4 separate regions of the Homo sapiens genome follow, and regions 2, 3 and 4 are each linked to region 1. The links come from fine-mapping of genetic effects on gene expression. A gene starts in region 1. Each other region holds a variant in brackets. All regions are shown on one strand. Distances are from middle to middle. Region 1 holds the start of USP40 (ubiquitin specific peptidase 40). Region 2 overlaps USP40 (ubiquitin specific peptidase 40). Region 3 overlaps USP40 (ubiquitin specific peptidase 40). Region 4 overlaps DGKD (diacylglycerol kinase delta).

Evidence for each region. PIP is the estimated chance that this variant, and not a neighbour inherited with it, causes the effect.
Region 2: its variant is the best candidate, but not a certain one, in a credible set for the expression of USP40 in whole blood (TOPMed, PIP 0.51).
Region 3: its variant is the best candidate, but not a certain one, in a credible set for the expression of USP40 in lymphoblastoid cells (GEUVADIS, PIP 0.75).
Region 4: its variant is the best candidate, but not a certain one, in a credible set for the expression of USP40 in cerebellar hemisphere (GTEx, PIP 0.89).

What each region holds. Positions count from the first base shown.
Region 1 is chr2:233,564,336-233,569,768 of GRCh38, reverse strand. It overlaps USP40 (ubiquitin specific peptidase 40), which reads left to right and starts at 2,987. Exons shown (of 32, transcript NM_001365479.2): 1 at 2,987-3,085; 2 at 4,196-4,413. The coding sequence starts at 4,215.
Region 2 is chr2:233,472,028-233,477,460 of GRCh38, reverse strand. It overlaps USP40 (ubiquitin specific peptidase 40), which reads left to right. Exons shown (of 32, transcript NM_001365479.2): 32 at 1-1,935. The coding sequence ends at 69. DGKD (diacylglycerol kinase delta) reads right to left here. Exons shown (of 30, transcript NM_152879.3): 30 at 5,363-5,433. Among named protein-coding and RNA genes, the nearest start is that of USP40, 92 kb to the left of the region's middle. RefSeq lists an enhancer at 3,005-3,604. The variant AAACG/G (reference allele first, on the strand shown) is at 2,752.
Region 3 is chr2:233,534,655-233,540,087 of GRCh38, reverse strand. The region is part of intron 10 of USP40 (ubiquitin specific peptidase 40); the gene reads left to right. Among named protein-coding and RNA genes, the nearest start is that of USP40, 29 kb to the left of the region's middle. The variant T/A (reference allele first, on the strand shown) is at 2,140.
Region 4 is chr2:233,388,579-233,394,011 of GRCh38, reverse strand. DGKD (diacylglycerol kinase delta) reads right to left here. Exons shown (of 30, transcript NM_152879.3): 3 at 3,529-3,609. Among named protein-coding and RNA genes, the nearest start is that of DGKD, 37 kb to the right of the region's middle. The variant T/C (reference allele first, on the strand shown) is at 2,406.

The sequences.
Region 1 (5,433 bases):
CAAGTTGTAAAAGAAGTCAAAAGCAGTCTTAAATAATCAGAACCCTTCTGCAAGATTGTCTAATGTCAATTCATTTTCTGACAGTGCTTCTTCTATATCTTCTTCCTCATTCTCTGGTACTGATTCAAAAGCACTCATCTCCATCAAGTCATCTTCTGTTAATTCCTCAGATGTGGTATCTATTAACTCTTGAATTTCCCCAAGATCTAGATCTTCAAACACTTTATGCCTCTTTTTTTTTTTTTTGGTGCCATATCCACAATCTCTTCCATGACTTCCTTGATAGGCTGTTGTAAATCCTGTGAACTCACACACAACATCTGGAATCTGGACGCAGTTTTCTTCAGCACTAATGTATTGTTTGGGGCTTGATGGCTTTCACAGCTTTTTCTGTAACAACATGGGCTTCTTCAATGGTGTAATCCTTCTGGACTTTCACGATATTCTCCCTGTTGAGATTCTCTTCCATAGTGTTGACACCCCTTTCCATAGAAAACCGTACGTAATGAGCCTTAAAGTTCCTTATGACCCCTTGATCTAAGGGCTGAATTAGACATGTTGTGTTTAGGGGCAAGGAGGCCACTTTGGTGCTCTCATTGCAGAATCTATGGGGTTCTGGGTGGCCAGGGACATTGTCCAATATCAAAAGCAATTTAAAAGGAAGTCCCTTACTGGCAAGGTACTTCCTGACTTCAGGGACAGAGCATTGGTTTTCATGGAACCAAACCAGAAAAAGTGTTTTCGTTGTACAGGGCTTTTTATCATAAAACAAAAAGACTTGCAGCTGGTGTTTATCTTTTCCCTTAAAGGCTCAGGGATTAGCAGCTTTATAGATGGCACATTTGAAAGCACTTTGGTAAATAGGTGTGTAGTGAGAAATACAGTATGAAAAGAATGTTGGGACCATCAGCGAACTAAGAATCAAAATAAAGAATTTCCACAGTGGATGTTGAGAAATCGTGGAAGCTTCTTTAGCAGAGAGGTTTGAGCTCAAAGTGCACCTTAGATGGATAGTGCATCTTATAGTGACGTGCAGGAAGGGGTGTGTAAAACGGGAGTCCACTGAAAAGGCTATCATCCTAATGCAGGTGAGATTTCATGGGGATCTGATAGGAGGAGAGGAAGCTATGGAATGAAAGGATTGTCCAGACAATACTTTGACATGCCATTAGTTTGATTCACAGACGAAAGACAAAGATATAAGATTATATAAATATAATCTTATATCTTTATAAATGTGACCACTCATTCATTCATATTTATAAGATTATATAACTATAATCTTATATAAGGTTATATAACTATAATCTTATATAAGGTTATATAACTATAATCTTATATAAGGTTATATAACTATAATCTTATATAAGGTTATATAACTATAATCTTATATAAGGTTATATAACTATAATCTTATATAAGGTTATATAACTATAATCTTATATAAGGTTATATAACTATAATCTTATATAAGGTTATATAACTATAATCTTATATAAGGTTATATAACTATAATCTTATATAAGGTTATATAACTATAATCTTATATAAGGTTATATAACTATAATCTTATATAAGGTTATATAACTATAATCTTATATAAGGTTATATAACTATAATCTTATATAAGGTTATATAACTATAATCTTATATAAGGTTATATAACTATAATCTTATATAAGGTTATATAACTATAATCTTATATAAGGTTATATAACTATAATCTTATATAAGGTTATATAACTATAATCTTATATAAGGTTATATAACTATAATCTTATATAAGGTTATATAACTATAATCTTATATAAGGTTATATAACTATAATCTTATATAAGGTTATATAACTATAATCTTATATAAGGTTATATAACTATAATCTTATATAAGGTTATATAACTATAATCTTATATAAGGTTATATAACTATAATCTTATATAAGGTTATATAACTATAATCTTATATAAGGTTATATAACTAATCTTATATAAGGTTATATAACTATAATCTTATATAAGGTTATATAACTATAATCTTATATAAGGTTATATAACTATAATCTTATATAAGGTTATATAGCTATAATCTTATATAAGGTTATATAGCTATAATCTTATATAAGGTTATATAGCTATAATCTTATATAAGGTTATATAGCTATAATCTTATATAAGGTTATATAGCTATAATCTTATATAAGGTTATATAGCTATAATCTTATATAAGGTTATATAGCTATAATCTTATATAAGGTTATATAGCTATAATCTTATATAAGGTTATATAGCTATAATCTTATATAAGGTTATATAGCTATAATCTTATATAAGGTTATATAGCTATAATCTTATATAAGGTTATATAGCTATAATCTTATATAAGGTTATATAGCTATAATCTTATATAAGGTTATATAGCTATAATCTTATATAAGGTTATATAGCTATAATATAGCTATACTCTTATATAAGATCATATAGCTATACTCTTATATAAGATCATATAGCTATACTCTTATATAAGATCATATAGCTATAATCTTATATAAGATCATATAGCTATAATCTTATATAAGATCATATAGCTATAATCTTATATAAGATCATATAGCTATAATCTTATATAAGATCATATAGCTATAATCTTATATAAGATCATATAGCTATAATCTTATATAAGGATCATATAGCTATAATCTTATATAAGATCATATAGCTATAATCTTATATAAGATCATATAGCTATAATCTTATATAAGATCATATAGCTATAATCTTATAAATGTGAACGAATGAGTGGTCCGCTGGCCGAGTGGACCCGCGAACTCACCAGCGGACTTGTAAGCGAGCTCACCTTGCCCGCTCCCGCTCCCGCTCCAGTTCCCAAACTCTTGGAGCAGAAGAGTTACATTTCCCATAAGGCCCCGTGCGAGGGGCCGGCGCTCCAGCGGGGCATCCTGGGAAGCATAGTCCACGATCCATAAATCACTTTCTGGAGACCCGCCCTCGCCAACATGGCGGCGCCCAGTTGGGGCGGGTTCGTTCGCTTCGCGTTTTGGCCAGGGCGGGGGTCTGGGCTTTAGGCAGTAAGTGCGGCTGGCGCCCGGGGATCCTGGGAGGGACGTGGGAAGCGTAGGGACAGTGTTGGTGGCCCAGTCTGAGGAGGGCGAGGCGAGAGGCTGCCCAGGCCTGCCTGAGGACGCGGCGCTCTCCTGGAGTCGGGGCAGTGGTTTCGGGCCACGGGGACCTCTGCCTTTTTGCGCCCCTGGGCCTGTGGTGGCTTGGAGGGCCTCGGCCGGCCGTAGGAGTTGGGAATTCAGGAATGCAGACAACGAGCTCGAGGCTAGACTCTCGAGTTGTGTTTTTTTAGTTTTCTTCTGAGGAAAAGAAAAATAATTGCATTTCAGCGCTTCCTGTCATTTGGTACCTATGCTAGGCGCTTTACGTTTCTCATCTCCAAGTGACCCTCCGCCACACTCGATGTGAAACCTTGGGGAAGTCACCTAGGCCCCCAGGGCTAACGATGGGATTAGTGGATACATACTGGAAGGCCTTTAGGCTTGATAATTTTAGTGGCAGTCTTCCCCGCCCTCCGCTCCCCTTCCCCCCTCCCTCCCCAGTGAACTGACTTCCGGCCCAACAGCTTCGGGACTGTACTAAAGTGCTCTAAAAAAAGTTAACTTGATCTGTTTAATTTAAATGTCATAATCTGGTATATAGTACTGAAGGGTGTGACAAGCAGAGATTTTAGAGAGTTGATTCTCAGAATTTAGGGTTGGCTTTGCCGTCCCAGCAGTGGATTAGTTGTGGCAACAGGTTTTCTTTTTTAAAAAAATTAGTGATGTGAACGTGCCTTTTTAAAAACAGCTGTTACTTATTGTGGGCCAAACCCTGTACACTAACTGCCCTTCTTTCGTTATGTCATTGGATAGTTTAAATGACCCGAAGAGACAGATGGTATCCTATTTTACACATAAGAAAACAGATTAACATATCCAGGGTCACACAGGTAGTTAGGGTCCTGATAGGGATGAAAAAAATCTAGATCTTGCTGCCTCCAAAACCCAACTACTGTACATAGAAACAGTAGTCCTGTGTTCTAAGAAACAACAGAATCGACTCCCAAGTGTAAGGTAGGGGGATTTGGGGAAAATTTATTTTAAAAATAAAAGCATTTATATGTCACTTTTTTTAAGGGTAGTATTTAGTTTCACAATGTTTGGGGACCTGTTTGAAGAGGAGTATTCCACTGTGTCTAATAATCAGTATGGAAAAGGGAAGAAATTAAAGACTAAAGCTTTGGAGCCACCTGCTCCTAGAGAATTCACCAATTTAAGCGGAATCAGAAATCAGGGTGGAACCTGTTACCTCAATTCCCTTCTTCAGACTCTTCATTTCACACCTGAATTCAGAGGTATGCTATGTTACGTACATTTAACTAGCAATATGTACCATCTTCTTTACATGTAATTAATTATGCAAAATCACAAATAGACCAATTATCTTAAAGATATATTCTACAGTATGTGTTTATTGTTGCACATATAAGATATAAATTGGTAATTCCCTCTGCAGAGAAATGTGAAGCTTAATCTTAAATATATCCTGGGTGATGACAATAATGTTTAGTAAAAAAATAAAGCAATATATTTCTTTTTTAATTCCTGTAATTTAAAGTACAACGTAAAGACAATTGTCATAAGTATCAGTCTTCATTATTGTTACACTGTTTGAGTTTTAAGATTTCTCTAGAATAACAAACACTTAAGCCAGAGTTATCCAACCAATTATATCTACCTTTTGGAGTGGGGAAGGGTGTCATATTATTTATATGGGTGCACAGTTGTTCATACGCATTTCTGAAATCTGGAAAGCTCACACCCTCATCTGATCTCACCTGAGCTTGTTTGGCTTCAGAACCAGACCTGGTGTGAGGCTATTTACAGTTTTTAGTTATCTCATGTGGGTGAATGTTCATACATTCATTACAGGAATATTAATCTGCTTGATTAATGGAAGCTGGCCCAGACCCTGCTGGGAATGTAACATTTTATATATATATAAAAAACACTTTTTTCATATTATCTTTATAAACTCTGGAAATTCTGAATTCCAAAGACCCAGAGATTTTAGGTAAGGGATTGTGTGCAAGAAACAGACCCACCACCCAAATTAGCTAAATTTAAAAGGGGGGTTATTGTAAGAATATAGGGGATCTCAGAAATCAACTGCAGGAAGCCAGCCTGACCTTACTGGACCCTTGATTTCTTGCCCCTGTTTCTCTCTATATATTTCTCCCATACCCCATCTCTGCAAACCAGCTTCCTCCACAAGGGTCCTAGGAGCTGTGTTCCCGTGAGCTCAGTGTGAACATTACTTTGCCTTCACCTGGCCCTGACTGGGGTCCCCAGCACTACATGGCTTTGTAGCTCAG
Region 2 (5,433 bases), 92 kb after region 1:
GCAGAGACGCCTGCCCGGCCCCGAGCCCCGGAAACTTCTCTCTCCATCCACGTGGGGAGCTTCAGATAACCGCGCCGCTGCACGGCTCTACTCCCGATGAACTCTCCGGCTGATGCCACAAACGTGGGTTTCCTGGGCATGGGGACTGGCTGCCTGGCGCCTCCAATCCCAAATCCTCTGCTTCCTTTGAGCACAGGGACGGCTCCTCTGAGGCCTGGCCAGTGCATGTAGTCACTTAGCTCTGCAACACGTGGCAGCCACGGGGGCTGGTGCAGCTCTGGATGTCGCCCACCCAGCTGCCAGTAGGTGCTGGGCTCTCTCACACAGCACCCGGCCCCAGCTGCCTTTTTTTTTCTTTTAACCAGAAAATGCACAACGTGTGCGTGAACCGCAGGTATGGAGGCAGCGGCATGCCGTTGCTCCGCTGTGGGAGGTGTGTGGGGTCAGGCCAGCCACTTTCCTCCGTGTTCAGATGACTCTCGTTCGCCCTGACCGGCTTCTCACAGTGTCTCAGGCCACTGCGCCACCGCGCTGGTGCTGAGCAGAAGCGGGCAGAAGTGGGGTCTGCTTTCAGGACTTCATTTCCCCCACTCGTTCCGGCCCCGCATGCTCCACGTCTGCCCTTTGGTCTGAGTTAAAACTGCGATGCTGAAAAGTGCGAGCTCTTTCCACGAGGAGGAGCCACACAGGGTGGCCTCCGAGGGTGAGTCGCTCTGCTAAGCAAGGGCAGCCGCTGCACGTCAGCCCGCAGGCCAAGGGTCCAGCTTATCCTGGGTGCTCTGTGATCAGAAGGTCCTTGGATCCCGAGGACTGCAGCTGCTGCCGTCCACAGCGCCTCAGCCTCTCTTCCTGTGTGGAAGCGGGGCAGGCAGGGCTGTGGCAGACAGGCCTGGCATAGCCCAGGTTCCAGGTGTCCTGGGCAGCCTGACCGGTTTCCTGAGTAGCCTCAATGAAAACACCTGAGAAAAAGAAAATGTAAACTAAGGAAGGGTTTTCCCACTTAATCCAACCCAGATTTCTATTCAACTTAAAGGATTTAATTGGCATTTGTGAGAAATAATAGTACCTGTGTCACTGAGTTGATTGATTTGGGACATAGACGGTTGACTTTCCCAGACAGCAGCTTAGCGGAAAGCAGCATCCCGAAGACGGTGTCGCATGTCCTGAGCCTGCTTGTCACCTGGGCCTCACGGTTTCTCGTCAGCCCCGTCACTGATGGGAAGCAGCACTGAAGTGTGAGGGCAGAAAGGACACCGCTGGAGTCAGGCGCTCCCCTGCCTGTGACCCTTTTCCAACAAGCTGATGCTGAGCCAGCGGCCTGCTTTGTCCCTCATACTCCTCCCAACAGTCCAAACCCCTACCAGACAGAAGCCACGTCGCTTCTGCACACGTGTCTGAGAGCGTCTGCCATAGACGTCTGTGCGTTTCCGTGAAGCACTGCGCCCTAAGGACCCAACTCTGACTAGCAGCTGCCTCCCACTCCCAAACACTAACCCCGCTCAGGAGACTCGCACTGGGTGTAGACTGCGTCTTTGCAGAGGGAGATGATAGAGGCTTCTGATGACGCCAGAGCTGTAAGTGTCGTGACGAGCTGGGCGCCCAGCCCTTCTTAAGCTGTTCTGTTTCTGTGGCTTTAACTGACATATTTCTGTAGCATCTGCCTTCATCTCATCTCAGCGTAATGAAATATTAATGAAATCGCTGAAAAGCTTTGCCTTCGAGAGGCCAGAAGCCTCGCGGAATGTCTGCAAGTCCAAAGACGCGTGTGGGTTGTGCCCTGAAGTGCCGTCCAGCAGGCGCGTGCGGCCGGGCCGGCCTGTGCGTGTGGCCTTTGCCTTCTTCCCTTTCTTCCTGTTTTCTGTTTTTTTAATTTGGGGATTGAGAAAGCTGTACGATTTTGTTAAAGAAAAAAATAAACCATTTTTTAAAGTTGTAGCCCTTAGCTGCTTTTGGTTGCCGGCTACTTCGTGCCCAGCTTGCTTAAGAGAGGAACTTTTGGCCGGGCGCGGTGGCTCACGCCTGTAATCCCAGCACTTTGGGAGGCCAAGGCGGGTGGATCATTTGAGGTCAGGAGTGTAAAACCAGCCTGGCTGACATGGTGAAACCCTGTCTCTCCTAAAAGTACAAAAAATTATCTGGGCATGGTGGCGGGCGCCTGTAGTCCCAGCCACTCGGGAGGCTGAGGCAGGAGAATCGTCTGAACCCAGGAAGCAGAGGTTGCAGTGCGCCAAGATCGTGCCACTGCACTCCAGCCTGGGTGACAGAGCGAGACTCCGTCTCAAAAAAAATACATAAATAAAATAAGGAACGTTTGTGGCCCTTTTTCCCAAGCCTGCTTCAGATGCTAAATAAACAGTTTATATTTAGAAATACTGCAGCAGTGCTGCTTTAGAAATAACAAGTTTGCTTTGGTTTTAAAAAGTTCAGACTCATGGGAAAAATGCACTGGAAGAAACTGGATGTAATCAATCTGGTTTTATTTTCCTTCTATGGAAATACGTAATGGTGGTGTCGTCACAGAAAACATACTTATTCAACAGTGACTTTTTCTAGCCAAAAAAGGGAGGGGCAAGAATTCCCTTGCAAATCATTTTGGCGCCATCGATGTGAGTTTAACCTGCAGAACAGACTTAACAGTGAGGGACCAACTTACAACAGCCCCTTCACCCTACAGGTCCATCATTCTGTTCTGTTCTGGATAACGCACCCACCCAAAGCATGGCCATACCAGGGTTCAATAAAATCCATAAC[AAACG/G]CATTCTGGGTGAAGCGGTGACCTCAGTATCCAAGTAAAGAGAGACTGCTTCCAGCTCCCTCTGGCCGCTGCCCTCCCCCACTCCCACCACACACGCCCACGTGCTGCCATGCGTCCAGGTCCCTGTGGCAATGGCTGCAGAGTGTGGCAGACAGGGCCCTTCATCTGCAGGTCCTTGCCCCGACTTGGGGTGGCAGGAGCAGACACGGCAATCTCCCGGCTCAGGAAACAAGAGACCACCAATGAGCTCACACCAGGCTGGGGCGGGGCCAGACGAGTGCTCAGGGGACAGTGGTGCCTCTGCCACGCCCCAGTGTGCTGCTCTGAGGTGGTTCTGTCTCCGCAGGCACCTCCCCAGGTGCCGAGACGCCACCAGCAGCTCCATCACACGAGGCAGCCACCAAGTGCCTCTTTCTACAAACCAGTGAAAGCCCTGGGCCCTAAGTGGGTGATGTCCGTGGGCTCCATGGAATGACAGTCGGGGGAGAGGGGAAGGTGCATTGCCCAGAGCTTCCAGGTGCCCATGTCCTTCACACGCATGTGCTTCAAAGATGGCAGCACCCTCGTGTTGGTGTGGCTGTTGCACCTCCCTCCCAGCCACACCGCCCCCACCCCAGAGGGGCGACTCCGAGTTGCACCCACTCCTAGCCCAGGTCTAAGAGCTCTGGGTGGGGTCCAGTAACCTACAGCCAAGGAACGCGCGTGAGCCCACCTGGAGCCAGGGCACAAAGGGGTGGGGGGACCACAGCAAAACTCTTCTGGCAAACAACAGAGGCCACAAATCCAGGGTTCAGTTAACATTACTGGACCAAGCACCCAGTTTGTTTTTCTAAGTGGTTGGGGAATTCTGAAGAGGATCAGTTTAAAAACAGTATAGACCCTGCTGCATTTTCTCCACTCAACTCTACTGTCCCGTCTCGCGATCATGCTACACTTGCAGCCCCGTCCACTCTAGATCGCTGCCCGGCCTCCCCACGCTGTCAGATGCTGTCTCTGTGAGAAGCCCCCTCCTCACTGCTTTCCCACACAATGGAGCCATGCCCCGTGTGAGATGAGCCACGCGGGCACAGGAGTGAGGCTGGCAAAGCGCACACCAGCCTCCCCCCAGGTCTGCCCCTGCCCGGGCATCTGGTGCCCCCAGCACGTGAGGCGCCCCGGCTGCTGTGCTGGAAAGCATGCCTGTCACTTGGGCCCAATTTCCTCACCTGTCTTGTGGGCTGGGCTTGCTATGAGGCTTGGGACACGGGAGAGCACGGCTGTCGAAAAGATATGCCCTCTGCCTCCCATGTCAGCCACGCGCTGGCTGTGCCTCATGGGGCAAGTTGTGTCGCCTCTCTGAGCCTGTCCCTCGCCTGTAAAATGCAGATAACCCACCATGTAAGGCTGTGAGGGGAATTAGAGGAGTTCGTACATTCAAGGTACTTAGACCAACACCTGGCACAAATTATAAAGTGTCAGCCGTCAGCATCCCGATCACCGTAATAGCTCGTACCCTTCGCACTGATTGGTTTAGTCATGAGTGCGTGAGGCAGTTCTAGCCAAGACATTAGAGGAGGTCGGCTGAAGCCAGAGCTTCGGAAAGGGCTCCCTTTATCTTAAAAAGAGACACACATAGGATCGCTTAACGCCAGGAGTTCAAAACCAGCCTAGGAAGCAAGCGAGACCCAGTCTCTACAAAAAATTTTACAAACTAGCTGGGTATGTTGTCATGCACCTGTACTCTCCGCTACAAGGGAGGCTGAGGTGGGAGGATCACTTGAGTCCAGGATTTGGAGGCTGCAGTGATCTACGATTATGCCACAGTACTCCAGACCAGAAGACAGAGCAAGACCTCATCTTCAACAACAACAACAAAAAGAGCAGGTGACACATAAAAGAGGCAGCCATTTGTCCCCAAACACCTTACACTGGTGTGATGCCTGGAGCTGTGGTGGCCATCTTGCAACCATGAGGCCTGAAGTCCTGAATGGCCAGAGAGGAGAATATACACCAGAAAAAAAAAAACGGGGGGGTTTGTTACCATGGAAGGAGTGAGGAAGAGCTGCTAGGGAGGCAGCCAACACTCCCGGAGCACATGCAGCCCTTCTGTACCCGACCAGCCTGATGGTGTCTTCCATGAATGCAGTCCCCATCCCTCACTCCAGGAAACTGGGGAAGACAATTCAAGTGGCCTTGATCGTAGACAGTTCCCTTGGAAATAAAAGTACCAAGACAAAGCAGAGAAGTCGGAGAGCTTCAGGTTTGCAGTTTTATAGAAAAGATTTAAGAGGGTTAAAATATTCGTTAAAATGGCCCTCATTCTCCCGGGCCAAGGCTGTGTGGTCACACCTGAGAGCCTCAGCACTGCCCAGTACCCTCTCTCTCCTTGCGGAATTTTTAGTCCAACTGATCACAGAACCCACACCCTAAAAAATACAACAGCATTCTAATGGCATTCTAACGGCATTCTGATGGCATGCTAATGGCATTCTGTTTTGCTTTTTAGCCACCAACAACTCAACCTATTTTCAGAGCAGGTGAAAAACAATTCTGAATCCAGTTTGGAAAGATTCCGGCAACCAACACTTTATGTCAAAGCACAAGGAATGATGACAAAGACTCTGGCGATGGAAGATCAAAAACAGGCTTGTTTTATTTATACACAGAACAACTTATGTACAGCACTCAGGTATGGACTA
Region 3 (5,433 bases), 30 kb after region 1:
AGCGGCACGACCTCAGCTCACTGCAACCTCCACCTCCCAGGCTCCAGTGATTCTCCTGCCTCAGCCTCCTGAGTAGCTGGGACTACAGGCATGTGACACTGCACCTAGCTAATTTTTGTAGAGACAGGGTTTTGCCATGTCACCCAGGCTGGTCTCAAACTCCTGGACTCAAGTGATCTGCCTGGCCATCAAGTTAATTTTTTCCTTTTCAAGAAACCAGCTTTTGCCTTAGATATAATTTGATGCAATGCTATTGATTTTCTCTATTGCTTTTCTATTTTCTATTTCACTGATATCTGTTCTTATTTTAAAGTATTTTCTTCTACTTCTTGGGACTTAATTTGATCATCTTTTTCTAGCTACTTGGGTTGGTAACTCAGTTTTTTTTTTAAACCTTCTAATACTTTTAAAGCTATAAATTTTCTTCCAAGCACTAGTTATATTCAACAAATTATATTGTTGATTATAGTTATATTGTTGAATATAGTCAGTTATATTCAACAAGCTTTCATTTTCATTCAGTTTGAAATATTTTCTAATTTCTCTTATTTTTTCTTTGGCTCTTGAGTTCTTTGGAGGTGTGTTGGTCAATTTCCAAATATTTAGGGGGTTTCTAGTTATCTTTTTGTTATGTCAGTAAATTGATTTCTAATTAATTTCATTGTACTTTGAGAACATACTCTATATGAGTTCAGTTCTTTTGAATTTCTTAGGACTTGTTTTACGGTTCAGAGTGTTGTCTATCCTGCTCAATGTTCTGTGTTCACTAAAGAGGTTGTTTTCTGCAGTTATTGGATGTAGCATTTCACAAGTGACAACTAGGTCAAATTGATTGTGTTCTTTGTTTCTTCTCTATTCTTCTTATTTTTTTTTTTGCCTTTTCTATTAATTACTGAGGAATTTTTAAATCTCCCAACTATAATTGTGGATTTGTCTCATTTTTTTAAAAAAAAGTTTTGACAGTTTTTGCTTCATGTATCTTCTGGAAGCTATATTATTAGGTACATACACATTTAGGATTGTTATTGCCTCCTGGCGTGAAATGCTTGCCTTTTTTTTGAGACAGAGTTTTGCTCTGTCACTCAGACTGAAGCGTAGGAGCACAGTCACAGCCCACTGCAGCCTTGACCTCCTGGGCCCACGTGATCCTCCTAGCTCAACCTCCTGAGTAGTTGCGACCACAGGCACACCTGGCCACACCTGGCTATGTGTTCTTTTTTTTATTTTTCATTTTGTAGAGATGGTGTCTCCGTATGTTGCCCAGGCTGGTCTTGAACTTCTGGGCTCAAGAGATCCTCCCACCTTGGCCTCCCAAAGTGCTGGGATTATAGGCATGAGCCACCACACCAGAAATGCTTGTCTTTATCTCTGCTAATATCCCTTGCCTTGAAATCTACCTTGTCTGGTATTAATGTAGCCATATAAGCTTTCTTATACATGTGTGTCTCAGTATGAAGTTGGATCTTGTTTATTTTGGAAAATTATGGTTTTTAAGGAATTTGTTCATTTATCTGAGGTGTCAAATTTGTTGGCATAAAGTTGTTTAAAATCTCACCTTATTATCCGTTTAGTGACTGTAGAATATGAACTTATGATTCCTTTTTCATTTCTGATATTGATAATTTGTCTTTTTTTAGCTTTCTTTTTCATTGCTGGGGTTTATCAAGTTTATTAAACTTTTCAAGAAAACGACTTTGCCTGTGTTGATTTTCTCTGCTCTTCTGTTTTCTGTCAAATGACAGAGAGTTTGACAGTCTCTTCCTTTTTATTAGAATGTTTAGTTATTTACATTAATATAATTGATATGGCTGTGTTTGAATCTCTCATCTTGCTATTTGTTTTCTATTTCTCCTCTATTCTTTATTTTCTTTTTCCTTTCCTGCCTTCTTTTGGATTAATAAATTTTTAGTGTCCCATTTTTAGCTCTTTTGTTGGCTTTTTAATCTATTTAATTTCATCTAGCGATTACACTATATATAAATTAACATGATAAATTACAAATTAATAGTATACCACTTTATGTATACTGTAAGATGCTTACAATAGTATAATTTCATTTTCCCATTCCCATTTTTCCTACTATTGCCTTCTTATATTTTACCATTACATGTAATGTAAATTACACTATATGTTACTACT[T/A]CTGCTTAAACACTTTAGTGACTTTTAAAGAAATTAAGGAAAGAATAGTGTTTCGTATTTATCTTTTCTGGAGTTTACTGCTCGTTATTTATCCAGGTTTGCATTTAATATCATTTCCCTTCAACCTAGAGAGTTTCCTTTAGCATTTCTTGAAGTTCAGAATTGCAGGTGAAAAATGCTTTCAGATTTTGTCTGAAAATATTTATTTTACCTCCATTTTTTAGTGATATTTTTGATAGATACAGAATTATAAGTTAATCATTTTTGTGTTTTTCTCAGTGTTTTAAAGAGGCCCATTGTGTTCTGGCTTCCAGTATGTTGGATGAGAAGCCAACTGTCATTTTTTATTTCATTCTCTTGAATGTAATGTTTCTTTTTCTTGGTCTACTTTTAAGATTTTCTTTTTATCTTTGGTTTTCAGCAGTTTGACAATAATGTATTTAGGTATTGTGTTCCTTGTGTTTATTTACATTCTATTGCTAAGTATTTTTAATATCTGTGGTCCAAAGTCTTTTTTAAAATTTTGGAAAAATTTTGGCCATTATTTCTTCAATTTCTTTTTCTGCCTCATCTCTCTTTCTTTTTCTGGGAGTCTAACTATATCCTTCCATATCTATGGGGGATTGGTTCTAGAATCCCCAGATGACACCCACATCTGCAGATGCTCAAGTCTCTTTCATGAAATGGCATAGTATTTGCATATGGCCTAGTCACATCCTCCTCTATTCTTTAAACTATCACTAGATTACGTATAATACCTAACATAGCCTGGACGTGGTGGCTCACACCTGTAATCCCAGCAAAAGGGAGGTCTAGGCAAGAGGATTGCTTGAGCCCAGGAGTTTAAGACCAGTCCTGGCAACATAGCAAGACCCCATCTGTACAAAAAATTTAAAAATTAGCTGGATGCGGTGGTGCGCACATGTAATCCCAGCTATTTGGGAAGCTGGGGTGGAGGATTGCTTAAGCCCAAGAGTCTGAGGCTGCAGTGAGCTATGATCATGCACTGCACTGCAGACTGGGCAACAGGATGAGACCCTGTCTCCAAAAGAAAAAAAAGGAAACAAAAAAACCTAATACAATATAAATGCTATGTAAATAGTTGTACTGTATTTTTAAGTTTTTATTATTTTTCACTATTATACTGTTGTTTATTTATTTTAATGTTTTTGATTCATGGTTGGTTGAATCTGTGGATTTGGAAACTGCAGATACTGAGGACCAACTGTATGTATTCGACCATTTGATATGTCCTCTCAGGTCTTGGATGTTCTGGGGGCTTTTGTTTTGTTTTGTTTGAGACAGGATCTCACTCTGTTGCCCAGGCTGAAGTGAAGTGGCACAATCTCAGCTCACTGCAATCTCTGCCTCCCAGGCTCAAGCAGTCCTCCAGCCTCAGCCTCCCGAGTAGCTGAGATTACTGGCATGTTTCACCATACCCAGCTAATTCTTTGTATTTTTTTGTAGAGATGAGGGTTTTGCCATGTTGGCCAGACTGGTGTTTTGTTCTTTAATTTTTTTCTTTTCCTACTTCAATTTGGACAATTTCCAGAGATCTGTCCTCAGCTTTGCTAATTTTTTCTTCCACTGAGCCACTCTTCTGTTAAGACCAACAAATGAGCTATACGTTTCAGATATTATACTTTTTAGTTGTAGTCTTTCCACTTAGCTCTTATTTAAAGTGTACATTTCTTTGCTGAAATTCCCCTTCTCTTTACCCATTCTATTCATCTTTTCCTTTAAATTCTTTAACATATTTATAATAGCTGTTTGCTATTATAGTAGCTAGATTAATTCTGAATTTGATTCTGTTGACTCTTTTATTCTCTTTTGAATTGACCATTCCATCTGTTGATTATGAATAACATTGTCCTGTTTCTTTGCATGTCATATAATCTTTTCAATATAAATTTTTATTTTTTAATTACAAATTGATAAATTTTAGTTGTATATATTTATAAGGGTACAGATTGATGTTTTAATTTGCAAATACAATACAGAAAAATCTAATGAACATATCCATCATCTCAAATACTTATTTTTTGTGGTGAAGTTTATTCTCAGCAATTTTGAAATGTACAGTATGTTATTATTTTCTGTATTTACCATACTGTGCAATAGATTTTTTAAGAAAAACAACTTATTCCTACCATTGAATTGAGGCTTTGTATCCTTTGACCATCATCTCCCCATGTCTTGCCCCCCTGCTCCATATAATCTCATATTGTGGATGATGTGTTGTGGAGAGTCTAGATTATGTTATTTTTCTCTGAAGAGCTTTGCATTGCATTCTAACAAGCCCTCAAATTACCTTTGAGTCTTTTAGATTCTGTGGAAGTTAAATTTTGGGCTTTAGGGTGGGTCTGTTACAATTTTGGCTTTAGTTCCAGGGAATAGCTTAGCCCTGGGTCATGGTCCTTCCTCTTACAGTAGGGCTCAGCTAACTATGGCCTGTGGGCAAAATGTGGCCTGCTGCCTGTTCTTATAGTCTTGAGCTAAGAACATGCCTTACATTTTTAAATGGTTACTTTTTAAAAGGTGAAGTGAGTACTAAGTAATGTTCTCAGTTTTGCTTCTAAAATATTTACCATCTGGCTCTTTAAGAAAAAGTTTGCTATCTCTTTCTAATTTGGTAGGACTTGAACTCCTTGTTCTTTCTTCTTGGCATCAGGCAGCCCTGCTCAGATATTGAACCTCCTAACTGATACTCTCTGCTGGGCTCTTTGAGCTGTCCATTCTACCATTTAGGAGTTAGCCAAGGATTTAGGGGGATTTGTTACAGAATTGGGGCTCCTTCGTGGGATCTCGCCTCTCTGGTATTCTCAGATTCTGTCCCCTCATCCCAGTAAGACTCTTGCCTTTTCTTGAAATCTGTTCCATCATGCACTGCTACAAACTGGGTAGTAGGTAGGTGAGTGCAGAACTCACCTGGTTTGCTTCCCTTCTTTGAAGTATTATATCTTCACTTTATGCCTACTTTGGGTTCCTTTCCCAACAGTTGTTTTCCTTTTTTGCCTAGAGTTTATCATTTTTATTAGGAAGATTAGTCTAAGAAAATTTCTTTGTCATTAATGGGACTAGACTGCACTGATGTTTGAGGCTTAAAAGAGTTAATTCTCAACTATCAAACAAAGAAAAACGTGGCTATATAGAAAGTTCATTACTTAAAAACCCAAAGAACAAAAAATGAAAAGAAAGTTCATTACTCAAAGCTTTCAAGTTGTTGATACTTTTTTGTACCTTAAACAAACTAGCTGCAAGGCTGTTTTACCCTCTGTTCTCATACACAATGTT
Region 4 (5,433 bases), 180 kb after region 1:
TATTTCGTAAGTTACAACAGATAAAAACTAATACACAGCCGGGCAAGGTGGCTCACACCTGTAATCCCAGCATTTTGGGTGGCCAAGGTGGGCACTGAGGTCAGGAGTTCGAGACCAGCCTAGCCAACACGGTGAAACCCTGTCTCCACTAAAAATAAAAAAATTAGCTGGGCATGGTGGCATGTGTCTGTAATCCCAGCTACCCAAGGCTGAGGCAGGAGAATCACTGGAACCCAGGAGGCGGAGGCTGCAGAGAGCCGAGACCACACCACTACACTCCCCCCTGGGCAACGGAGCAAGACTCCATCTAAAAAAAAAAAAAAAAAAACCAATACACATAAATACAGACACTGAATTAGAAAACAGGAAAGTAGGGCCCAGCATGGTGCCTTACACCTGTAATCCCAGCACTTTGGAAGGCTGAGGCAGGAGGATCACTTGAGGTCAGGAGGTCAAGACCAGCCTAGACAACATGGCGAAAACCCATCTCTAACTAAAAATACAAAAATCAGCCAGGCGTGGTGGGACACACCTGTAATCCCAGCTACTCAGGAGGCTGAAGCAGGAGAATCACTTTAACCCAGGAAGAAGAGGTTGCCATGAGCCGAGATCACAGCACTATACTGCAGCCTGGGCAACAGAGCAAGACCCTGTCTCAAAAAAAAAAAAAAAAAAAAGGAAACAGGCCAGGCGTGGTGGCTCACACCTGTAATCCCAGCACTTTGGGAAGCTGAGGCAGGCAGATCACTCAAGGTCAGGAGTTTGAGAACAGCCTGGCCAACATGGCGAAACCCCGTCTCTAACTGAAAATATAAAAACATTAGCTGGGCGTGGTGGCAGGTGCCTGCAATCCCAGCTACTCAGGAGGCTGAGGCAGAAGAATCGCTTGAACACAGGAGGTGGAGGTTGCAGTGAGCCAAGATCACGTCATTGCACTCCAGCCTTCCAGCCTGGGCAACAGAGCAAGATTCCGTCTCAAAAAAATAAAAAAGGAAACAGAAAAGGAGAATTGTTCAATAATCTAAGAACTAGTTCTCTTTAAAAACAAAGAAAACAAAAATGCTAGAGTTTACGAAATCTGACAAGAAAAGCAAACTAAACTAATAAAATTAGAAATGCAAAGGAGATTCAACCAGAGACACAGGTGTTTAAACTACACAACAGTACACGCTACTAACTTTGAAGGTGTGAAATTTGTGGGAAAGTAAATTACAGATGTGGACTCAAAAAGTGAAAAGGTTCAAAAAATGATCAAAATGCAAGAAATAAATATTTTAGGATTTATTTCTATTACAGCCTTATCTCCCTAAAAAGTCTTCTTGACAAATAATTTAAAATAAATTCTCTCGAACTTAAGAAACAACCAATCCCAAAGCTACATAAAATGTTGCAGAAAACATAAACTCATAGAAAGTTACTAAATGAATTTTATGGGGTTGGTTTAACTCTGAAATCAAAACACAGTATGTCCAACTATTATGTATCCATTAAAATTAAAAACAGAAAAAACAATTGTTTAAAACTGCAATAAGGCTACATTCTCACCCAAAACAAATGCATACATACCAGTGGGAAAATTCTAAATTGCAAGATAAAGGAGTAAAATTCAACATTACCAAGAATAATTTTTTTATTAGGAAATATGCAAATAACTGAAACCAAAATGAACATCTAAATTAATGCCCAGGGCCAGGCACAGTGGCTCATGCCTGTAATCCCAGTACTTTGGAAGGTTCAGGCGGGTAGATCACTCCAGGCCAGGAGTTTGAGACCAGCCTGGCCAATATGGTGAAACCCCATCTCTACTAAAATTACGAAGATTATCTGGGCATAACGGTGCACGACTATAATCCCAGCTACTAGGGAGGCTGAGGCATGAGGATCCCTTGAACCTGGGAGACGGAGGTTGCAGTGAGCCGAGATCACACCACCGCACTTCAGCCTGGGTGACAAAGGGAGACAACATCTCAAAAAAATTCATTAATTAATCAACTGATGCTCAGAACACTCCAAAGAAATTCAACACCTACTCCTATTAAAGACTCTAAAAACCACGAATCAAAGAAAAATCTATTTATGTGGTTAAAAATGTCTCTTCCCAGCTGGTAAAAATAAATTAATAGAGAAAACTACAAATACTCCAAGTAAAATAAGAGCAGTTAATCAACACAAAATAAGCAGAGGTTTAGACAGAGAAAGGAAAATCCCATTTGTATTGGCAACATCAACAATGAATCCATCAATAAATAAAATAAAACAAAACTTGAAAGCACCTGAAACTAGCACTAACCCAAAATATCAGATCCTAAACTTGAGGAAAATTACTCACCTTGACTGAATTATAAAAGAATAATTTTTTTAATTAGGGTACACACTTTTTGTCTACATGGGATGGCCTAATAACA[T/C]AAAGAAAAACAGCTTTAAAAGTTCTAGTGCTGTTATTAGAGTCAAACCTTACACAGGCAGGCGCTAAAGTCAGCCCGTAAAGCCTAAATTATAAAATCCTACAAGAAAATGCTACTATAGCCATTAAATAATATCATGAACATTTAGATCAGCTGACATGAGCAACTCTCTACTATAAATTGTCCTGGGGGGGGAAAAAAACACAGGTGTAAACCAAAAGGTTCAGCATGATCTCATGGGTACATGTAGGTAAAGACATAAATATACAGAAATAAAGATAAACACTGTAGAGTAAGCAGCTGGCCACTTCCAAGTGGTGAGATCACATGATTCTGTGCATTTAGAACTTTTGCAGAAAGTCCTACATAACTTTTATAAATTTGGAAGGAAGAAAGTTTAAACATAAAAAAGGAAAAAAAAAAGAAATACACCAAAATATTAACATTCAATGTTTTTTGAGGTGGCTGTTATGGCTGCTTTTTAATTGCTTTAACATACTTGTCTGCATTTTCCAAATTTTCTACATTAATCACAAAAAACAAAACTCTGTACAGAGGTAGTAAGATGTGAACCAGCAAAGCGTGGTGGCTCACACCTGTAATCCCAGGATTTTGGGAGGCCAAGGAGGGTGGATCACCTGAGGTTGGGAGTTCGAGACCACCCTGACCAACACGGAGAAACCCTGTCTCTACTAAAAATACAAAATTAGCCAGGTGTGGTGGCACATGCCTGTAATCCCAGCTACTCGGGAGGCTGAGGCAGGAGAATCGCTTGAACTCGGGAGGCGGAAGTTGCTGTGAGCTGGAGATCACGCCATTGCACTCCAGCCTGGGCAACAAGAGCCAAACTCCGTCTCAAAAAAAACAAAACAGACGTGAACCAAAACACATATAAAAATTTTTCATTTGGTCCCTATTGTCCTTTTGTGCTTATGCATGCCAAATTCTTGGTTATTCTCCAACCACAGTATTACTTTCAGCATTAAATTCAAATTTTACCAGCAATCATTCCAATCAGTAAGAAAAGAATGAAAACGTTTGAACTGCTTGGACACATGTTCAGATCAAAAAGGAAAGCCAACTTCAGTGAAGAATCAAGAAAGGCATGACTGAGGAATCTTACCGTAAAACTGTTGTTGACGTTTTTGGTACTGGATTCAGCTACGCTGGCATCTGTCAGATCCACCTCATCAAATATGATTGACTAGAAAGAGACAAACACAGGGACTAAGGCACATAAAGACAGGTACATCCCTAAGCACTAGCCAGCGCTGCCCACCACACCCCAATGATCCCTAACAAGCACCCACAGAAGCCCCAGTACCTTGAAACTGTAGCATCCAATCAATAAGCCAATCCAAATTAACCCACCCACCTGCTTCTAACCAAAAGCTCGGGCTCACAGGTATAGTGCCATGATTTTTTTAAAAAAATCTACAAACATTGTCATTGCATTAGTGAAGGAAGAAAGAGAGAGAACCAAAGCAAACAACCCAATGCTGGTATTTCTGTATTTACTACTGTCAATACCAGTATTCACTTTTACATGTGAAGTATGTTCTCACACAGTGTTTTAGCTGAGGGAAGGCCGGGGTCTGGACTGAGGATTCCGTGTCCTCCTGGCTTGTTCCTCCAGCGAGCACATGGAGGGGGAAGGTCCTGGCTAAAACAAATTCTTCTGGAGAAGAGAGACAGGTCCAAATGGAAAGGGTCTGGCCGTGAAAGGAAACAAGGGAGTAGAGCAGAAGGATCCTGGTCCTGGAGAGAAAGATGCTCCAGGGCAGGGCTGGGAGTCAGGCCTGGGGACCTCCCCCGTCTCCCTCTCCACTCCCTACAGGGTCCCCCGGCACAGCCCCTGCCTCCTGTTTCCCTTATACCATCCCCTCTATTCTACGATGGCTCTATGAGGAACCCTGGAGAAAATCAAACTAATAACTCAGAAAAGAAACTCAATCTTTTAAGTAACCTTTCCCCTCCCCGCACCACCAGAACTAACTGTAAAAGGTTATTTTGTCGTGTTTTTTTTTTTTTTTAATTGAGGGAAGTGGTCAGAACCCTTTCTAAACAAGCTGCTTTGTTCCATTTCAAATTTTAATGCAGTAACTTTCTAGGGATATGTCTCAAAATGTAAATTATTCAGACTCCAGATTTCTTAAATACCAAAATATTAGTACTGACACCAATCCTGATAAAAAACACAGGTATTCAGAATCCCAGCCAACACACTGGTGTCTGAATGTCTAACACCACATCCGCTTAAACATGGCAGTAATCTGTGACTTTCACTGGCTGCTCCTCCTCCAGCAGCACCCACCTGGTGCTTCTAGCTTTAAATCTACCTACAATAGGGCACACAGAAACAAGGTTAATTGCTAGAAAGCCTAAAAATAAAGAATTTCCCATTTCTGTTCACACATCAAGAAGCTCAGCTCCTTCTACTTTGGCTGGGCACAGTGGCTCATGCCTGTAATCCCAGCACCTTGGGAGGCCAAGGCGGGCAGATTACTTGAGGTCAGGAGTTCAAGACCAGCCTGGGCAATGTGGTGAAACCCCATCTCTAGGCCGGGCACGGTGGCTCATGCCTGTAATCCCAGCACTTTGGGAGGCAGAGGCAGGCAGATCATTTGAGGTCAGGAGTTCGAGACCAGCTTGACCTACATAGTGAAACCCCATCTCTACTCAAATATAAAAATTTTAGCCAGGCGTGGTTGCAGGCACCTGTAATCCCAGCTACTTGGGAGGCTGAGGCAGGAGAATTGCTTGAACCCAGGAGGCGGAGGTTGTAATGAGCCGAGATCTCGCCACTGCACTCCAGCCTGGACGACAAAGCAAGACTCCCTCTCAAAAAAAAAAAAAAAAAAAAAAAGAACTTCAATATACTTAAAGAATAAAAATTATTTAATAATAAGAAGATGAAATTCATAGCCCCGTGATTCCCTCCGCCTTTCTGAGAGAGAGATATCCAGCTGTAACGCGGCTGTCTCTGTGACCCTTTTTTCCTTTTCCCCATTACCGATGACATTAAAGA